Linked DNA regions of Homo sapiens. The protein of the gene in region 2 purifies or fractionates together with the protein of the main gene of each other region. This does not show direct contact. Each region holds a gene or a part of one and is shown on either strand. Other genes may lie near its edges. The genes, in order: P2RY8 and PTPRJ.

Region 1 (3,838 bases), on a different chromosome or scaffold from region 2:
ATGTATCTATCTATCTGATTGATCTATCTCTCTATCATCACCATTATCTATCTATATGTATGTGTGTATCTATCTATCCTATCTATCTATCTCTCATCTATCTATGTATCTCTCTAATCTATCATCTATTTAATCTATGCATCTATATATCTATCTATCTAATCTATTTATCCATGTATGTATGTATCTATCTAATCTATGTATGTATATATCTATCTAATTTACGTATGTATCTTTTCTATCTATCTCTATTATCTATATATCTATCTGTCTATCATCACCATTATCTATCTATATCTATGTATGTATTGTCTATTCTATCTCTCATCTATCTATATATCTCTTTAATCTATCATCTATCTATCTAATCTATGCATGTATCTATGTATCTATCTATCTAATCTATTTATCCATGTATGTATGTATGTATGTACCTATCTAATTTATGTATGTATGTATATATCTATCTATTCTATGTATCTATTTATCGATTCTATCTATCTGTCTGTCTGTCTGTCTATCTATCTATCTATCTATCTATCTATCTAATTTGTCACCCATCTATCTTTAAGACAGTGATAGATGAGCAAGTGATTTTGCTACCTGGAGACATTGAGTAATATCTGGAGACATTTCTGATTGTCACAACTGTGGGTGCTCCTGGCACCTTGTGGCTGGAGCCCAGGGACGCTGCTCTACACCCTACAATCCCCAGGATGGCCCCACCACAGGGAATTCCCCCGCCCCAAATGTCACTAGTGCTCCAGCAGACAGCCTGTGCCTTTTGTGTCTCATGAATGGTTCTATCCCAAGATCTGTCCTTGCCCCATCTTCCTGCATGCCCTCTCCATCAGGGGTCCCCCTGCTTACAGGGTCCCCCGTAAACAATGTCCAGGCCCCCTCCCAGCCTGACTGTGCCCAGCCCGAGGGGTTAGCATGCTCAGCCCACCCCCAGCTCATGAACTCCTGGGGAGCCTGGACAGCACATTGCCATTCCACCAACTCATCATCCGAAACCAACACAGCCTGGCACCTGCCACCTGCTTCTGTCTGTGCCACTCCCTGCCCAGCCATGGAGAGTCTCATAGGACTCCTCCCTCCCATGGAGACCTTCTTGGCTAGAAAATCACACATCCTGCTTCCACAAAGTCCCTCTGCTCAGGGCACCAGCACCTTTCCCCTGGAGCAGGGCACTCTGCACAAAAGCATCAACGCAGTCCTCAAGGTCCCAGCCCGGCTCAGCGGCATGAAAACACGCTCAACATCACGAATGATCAGGGAAATGCAAATCAAAAGCAGAATGTGACATCACCTCACTCCTGCAAGAATGGCCACAATCAAAACATCAAGAAATAGCAAATGCTAGTGTGGATGTGGCGAACAGGGAACACGTCTGCACTGCTGGTGGGAACGTAAACTAGTACAGCCACTATAGAAGACAGTGTGGAGAGTCCTTAAAGAGCTAAATGTAGAACTACCATTTGATCCAGCAATCCCACTGCTGGGTATCTAGGTAGAGGAAAGTAACTCATTATATGAAAAAGATACTTAGAGGAAAGTAACTCATTATACGAAAAAGATACTTGCACAGGCATGTTTATAGCAGCACAATTTGCAATTGCAAAAATGTGGAACCAACCCAAATGCCCATCAATCAACAGGTGGATAAAGAAACTGTGGTGTATTTATATATATAAATGCCGGCACTGACACACACACAAACACACACACATATATGTCATATATATGTGTGCCATATATATACACACACGTATATATACACATATATGTATATGATGTGTATATATACACATATACGTATATGATGTGTGTATATGCACATATATGTATATATGTATATGATGTGTATATATACACATATATGTATATATGTATATGTGTATATATACACATATATGTATAGATGTATATGTGTATATATACACATATATGTATAGATGTATATGATGTGTATATATATATACATATACTTATGATGGAATACTACTCAGTCATGAAAAAGAATAGCATTTGGAGTGGCCTGGATGAGATTGGAGACTATTATTCTAAGTGAAGTAACTCAGGAATGGAAACCCAAACATCGTATGTTCTCACTCATAAGTGAGAGCTAAGCTATGAGGATGCAAAGGCATAAGAATGCCACAACGGCCGGATGCGGTGGCTCACACCTGTCATCCCAGCACTTTGGGAGGTCGAGGTGGGCAGATCACAAGGTCAGGAGTTTGAGACCAGCCTGGCCAATATGGTGAAACCCCGTCTCTACTAAAAATACAAAAATTAACCGGGTGTGGTGGCACATGCGTGTAATCCCAGTTACTCAGGAGGAGGCTGAGGCAGGAGAATCGCTTGAATCCGGGAGAAGGAGGTTGCAGTGAGCCGAGATCGCGCCACTGCTCTCCAGCCTGGGCAACAGAGTGAAACTCTGTCTCAAAAAAAAAAAAAAAAAAAAAAACGAAAGAAAGAAAAAAGAAAAAAAAAGGAATGACACAAAGGACTTTGGGAACTCCAGGGCAAAGATTGGGGAGAGGATGAGGGATAAAAGGCCACAAACCGGGTTCAGTGTATACTGCTTGGGTGACGGATACCCTGAAATCTCACACATCACCACTAAAGAACTTCCTCGTGTAACCAAATGGCACGTGTTTCCCCAAAACCTATGGAAGTAAAAAGTGTAAAACAAACCAACAAAAACACACATCAGCTTCTGAAAAAATCTTCTGAGGAGTGTGCTTTCTTGAGGCAAATAAAAGAGATTGCCAAAAATAATATATATATATTCATATATTACATATTTACATATTTATTATTTAAACATATATTTATGTATTTTTTATTATTTATATATTATATATTTATATATTTATTATTTAAATATATTGTATATTTATATATTATTTATTCTTTATATCTTATATACTTATATATTTATTATTTAAATGTATTGTATATTTATATTTTATTTATTATTTATATATTATATACTTATATATTTATTATTTAAATATATTATATACTTATATATTTATTATTTAAATATATTATATATTTATATATTATTATTTACATATTTATTATTTACATATTTATTATTTAAATATATTTTATATTTATATATTATTTATATATTATATACTTATATATTCATTATTTAAATATATTATTCATATATTATTTATTATTTATATATTATATACTTATATATTTATTATTTAAATATACTATATATTCATATATTATTTATTATTTATATATTATATACTTATATTTATTTAAATATATTATGTATTTATATATTATTTATTATTTATATATTATATACTTATATATGTATTATTTAAATATATTATATATTCATATATTATTTATTATTTACATATTACATAGTTATATATTTATAACTTAAATATATTATATATTTATATATTATTTATATATTACATATTTACATATATTATATACTTATCTATTTATTATTTACATATATATTTGTATATTATTTATATATAATATATTTACATATATATTTATATATAATATATTTACATATATTATATATTTATATATATTTACATATATATTTATATACAATATATTTACATATATTATATATTTATATATATTTACATATATATTTATATACTTACTATTTATATATTATATATTATTTATATATAATTATTTATATAATTATATATGTAATACATATATATATACACACACACAGATAGGTGTATCTGTTGCTTTATCCTAAGTGAACACAGATACTGCATCACTAGGGAGCGACATTGTGAACCGCAGAACACTCCCTGCAGTCCCC
Region 2 (3,838 bases):
AAAAAATTAGCCAGGCATAGTGGCGGGCGCCTATAGTCCCAGCCAGGCTGAGGCAGGAGAACGGCGTGAACCCGGGAGGTGGAGCTTGCAGTGAGCCAAGATTGCGCCACTGAACTCCAGCCTGGGTGACTGGGTGAGACTCCGTCTCCAAAAAAAAAAAAAAAAAAATCCCAACACTTTGGGAGGCCAAGGCAGGCAGATCACTTGAGGTCAGCAGTTCCAGACCAGCCTGGCCAACATGATGAAACCCTGTCACTACTAAAACTACAAAAATTAGCCAGGCATGGTGGCGCATGCTTGTAATCCCAGGCTGAGGCAGAAGAATCACTTGAACCTCAGAGGCAAAGGTTGCAGTGAACCAGGATCACACCACTGCAATCCAGCCTGGGTGACAGAGCAAGACTCCCCCTCAAAAAAAAGAAAAAAAGAGGTTTCATGACATAATTTTGACAATTCATAATTATTGATAATTACAATATTATGGTCTTTGCCCTAACTCTTCAGTAAATGGAATACCTCTCTCTTCTGATACACAAGTATCTATATTCACCTTTTTTTGTCACTTTAAAGGTAACATTATATATACATTGTTCTCTACATAGCCTTTTAATTTATTTAGATATCTTGGAGAGTATTTACCGCCTGCACCTATAGCTGTAACTCATTCTTATAAATGACTGGCTAGTTTTTTGTTTGTTTGTTTTTTGAGATGGAATCTCAGTCTGTCGCCCAGGCTGGAGTGCAGTGGCACAATCAGAAATACTCTTCTGATGTAACTCTTCAGTAAATGGAATACCTCGTGGTATTTTATAAAATGCTGTGTTTATGTTTCCATAGCCATTTACAAGGAATTTTAGCATAATATGATCACACTTAGCTTCTCCAACTACCCTGTGTCAGAGGTACTCCTATTATTAGCATTTTTGGAATATGAAGAGCAAGGATCAGAAAGGTCAAGATACCTGCCCAAGATCACACAGCTAATGAGGTGGTAGAGCCAAGACTCCAACAAAGGAGTCTTGTTCCAAATTCTATGCTCTCTTCACCACCCTAGGGTCTTATTTATCTCTGAGTTCCTAAGGAACAAGTGCTACATCTAAAATAATTGGCATGGGGGAGGGGGAATGTGTTTGCAATACAAATGACAATCGAAGGACTAATTTCCAAAGAGCTTATACAAATTGATAACAAAGATTATATCTATATCTATCTATCTATAGATATAGATTTTTTTTTTTTAATGAACAGGGAGTTAACCAAAAAACAAAAAATGGGGCCTGGCACAGTGGCTCACGCCTGTAATCTCAGCACTTTGGGAGGCCGAGGCAGGTGGGTCACCTGAGATCAGGAGTTCAAGACCAGCCTGGCCAACATGGTTCCTAAGGAACAAGTCCCATCTCTACTAAAAATACAAAAAATTAGCTGGGCGTGGTGGCACACGCCTGTAATCCCAGCTACTCAGAAAGCTGAGGCAGGAGAATCACTTGAACCTGGGAGGTGGAGGTTGCAGTGAGCCAAGATCACGCCATTGCACTCCAGCCTGAACAACAAGAGCAAAACTCTGTCTCAAAAAAAAAAAGAAAACAAAAAAAGAAGAAGAAGCAGAGGCAAATGACCAAAAAACTCAACTAACTCAAAATTAAAGATATAAATAAAAATAACAAGATACGGCCAGGCGCGGTGGCTCACACCTGTAATCCCAGCACTTTGGGAGGCCGAGGCGGGCGGATCACAAGGTCAGGAGATCGAGACCATCCTGGCTAACACGGTGAAACCTCGTCTCTACTAAAAATACAAAAAATTAGCTGGGCTTGGTGGCGGGCGCCTGTAGTCCCAGCTACTCGGGAGGCTGAGGCAGGAGAATGGCATGAACCTGGGAGGCGGAGCTTGCAGTGAGCCCAGCGCCACTGCACTCCAGCCTGGGCAACAGAGCAAGACTCCGTCTCAAAAAAAAAAAAAAAAAAAAAAAAAACAAGATACAATTTTTCACCTTTCAGACTAGCAAACATGTAAAAATTTTCATTTCAGATGAGACGGTATGGAGAAACAGACACTCTCCAAACCTATGGATACAGGTACAAACTGAGGGGACACTTTTGGAGGACAACCTGACAACAGCAATCACACTTTTAAATGCATGCATCTTCCAATCCAGTAATCCTGAAACTAGAAATTTACTCTACAGATAAACTTGTGAAGGTTACAAGAAATATCCACCAGAAACATTACAAAGTATGATTTGTGACGGGACAGGGAGGTGTACTAAAACAACTAAAGTGTCCATTGATAGGAGAATGGTCAAATAAATTGTAGTAAATCCACACATCAAAACACTAGTCATGGTCAGGCATGGTGGCTCACACCTGTAATCCCAGCACTGTGGGAGGCCGAGGTGGGTGGATCACCTGAGGTCAGGAGGCAGAGGCTGCAGTGAGCCGAGATCCAAGATCATGCCACTGCACTCCACGCTGGGGTACAAACTGAGACCGTGTCTCAAAAAAAAAACAATAAAATTAAAAATTTTAAAAAAACCTTCTGAAATTGGATACAATATTGTAAATATGTGCATTCCCTTTTGGGGAAGGATTCTTCCCTTTTACATACTCTCTATACTCTCTAGGGGTCTTGTATCTCTTCTTTTCCCCCCCAAGAAAGATTCAGAACCACTGTGTTATAGGCTCCATGTTGATATGAAGTTTTAATACTCACTCACTCATTCACTCAGAAACCATGAGATAACACTGGGCTACGCCCTGGCACAGGCTCCCAGAAAAATATCACCCAACTCCTGCCCTGGAGACGCAAATCGTTTGTAACACAATAACGACATTGTCCGCCCAAGTTTCAGAAATGGCAACAGGGGACAACTTCCCTCTAACAGGAAGAAGGAAAAGTGGAACTGAAAATTATTTGCATGTTTAAAATTAGACCTTCTGTGGGAGCTGACACTGCCTCGTTTTCAAAATGCCCCCCATCTGCTTACCACCACCCCTTATCCTACCATTTACATGCCAGGGAAATTCTGAGACAATAGGATGACTGCAGCTGTCACTAATAAGGAAGTAATAACAAACTTCCTACAGCCCCTGTCCTCCGAGGGGGCACCAGTAAAGCCACTGGAAAACCAGCCATACAAGGTGGTAAAAAAACTGCTCTGGGCTTCTCTGGTCTAAGATATTCACCACTTTCAGGGATCTCCACTTAGGGACTGGCTGTCCCTCATTATCACCATTCCTTCTCTGGCAAGTGGCAGCCCTTTCTCTGAAGCGGGCAGCAGGGATGTCATTCACAGTCACATCCTACATCACAACTGTGACTGGTTGGTTGGTGCTATCTGAGTCTTGCCCAGTGGCCAGTAAGAGCCATGAAGACAGGCTCCTGTTCCCCACCACGGCCTCTGCTCAGTGCCTGTCCCCCAGACTTAAGAAACTGATCATCTTTACAATTTGGTCATAACCACATCATACTCACATAATTATTTACCCAATGTTTTTCTTTAGACCAACTTTTTATGATATTTAAACAAATTTATTTATCATGATACCACTTTTCACCTCATTCGACCTATAAAATCATGGACTTTTGGGGGTCTTTCTTTACTAAGACCCCCTAAAATAAATTATTTTTTATTTTTTTTCTTTTTGAGACAGGGTCTCACTCTGTTGCCTGGGTTGGAGTGCAGTGGCGCTATCAAGGTTCACCGCAGCTTCAACCTCCCAGGGCTCAAGCCATCCTCCCAACTCAGCCTCTCAAGTAGGTGGGACCACAGGTCCACACCACCATGCCCAGCTAATTTTTTGTATAGACAAGGTCTCACTTTGTCATCCAGGCTGGTCTC

The links.
Region 1: the proteins of PTPRJ (region 2) and P2RY8 purify together in Homo sapiens (co-immunoprecipitation; one large-scale study listed by IntAct). This does not show direct contact.

Annotation. Positions count from the first base shown.
Region 1 is NC_000023.11:1,530,553-1,534,390, forward strand, and holds part of P2RY8 (S-geranylgeranyl-glutathione receptor P2RY8), read right to left. Parts: intron 1-3,838. UniProt on the Homo sapiens protein: G protein-coupled receptor for S-geranylgeranyl-glutathione (GGG), an endogenous metabolite present in lymphoid tissues.
Region 2 is NC_000011.10:47,987,014-47,990,851, reverse strand, and holds part of PTPRJ (receptor-type tyrosine-protein phosphatase eta isoform 1 precursor), read right to left. Parts: intron 1-3,838. UniProt on the Homo sapiens protein: Tyrosine phosphatase which dephosphorylates or contributes to the dephosphorylation of CTNND1, FLT3, PDGFRB, MET, KDR, LYN, SRC, MAPK1, MAPK3, EGFR, TJP1, OCLN, PIK3R1 and PIK3R2. Plays a role in cell adhesion, migration, proliferation and differentiation.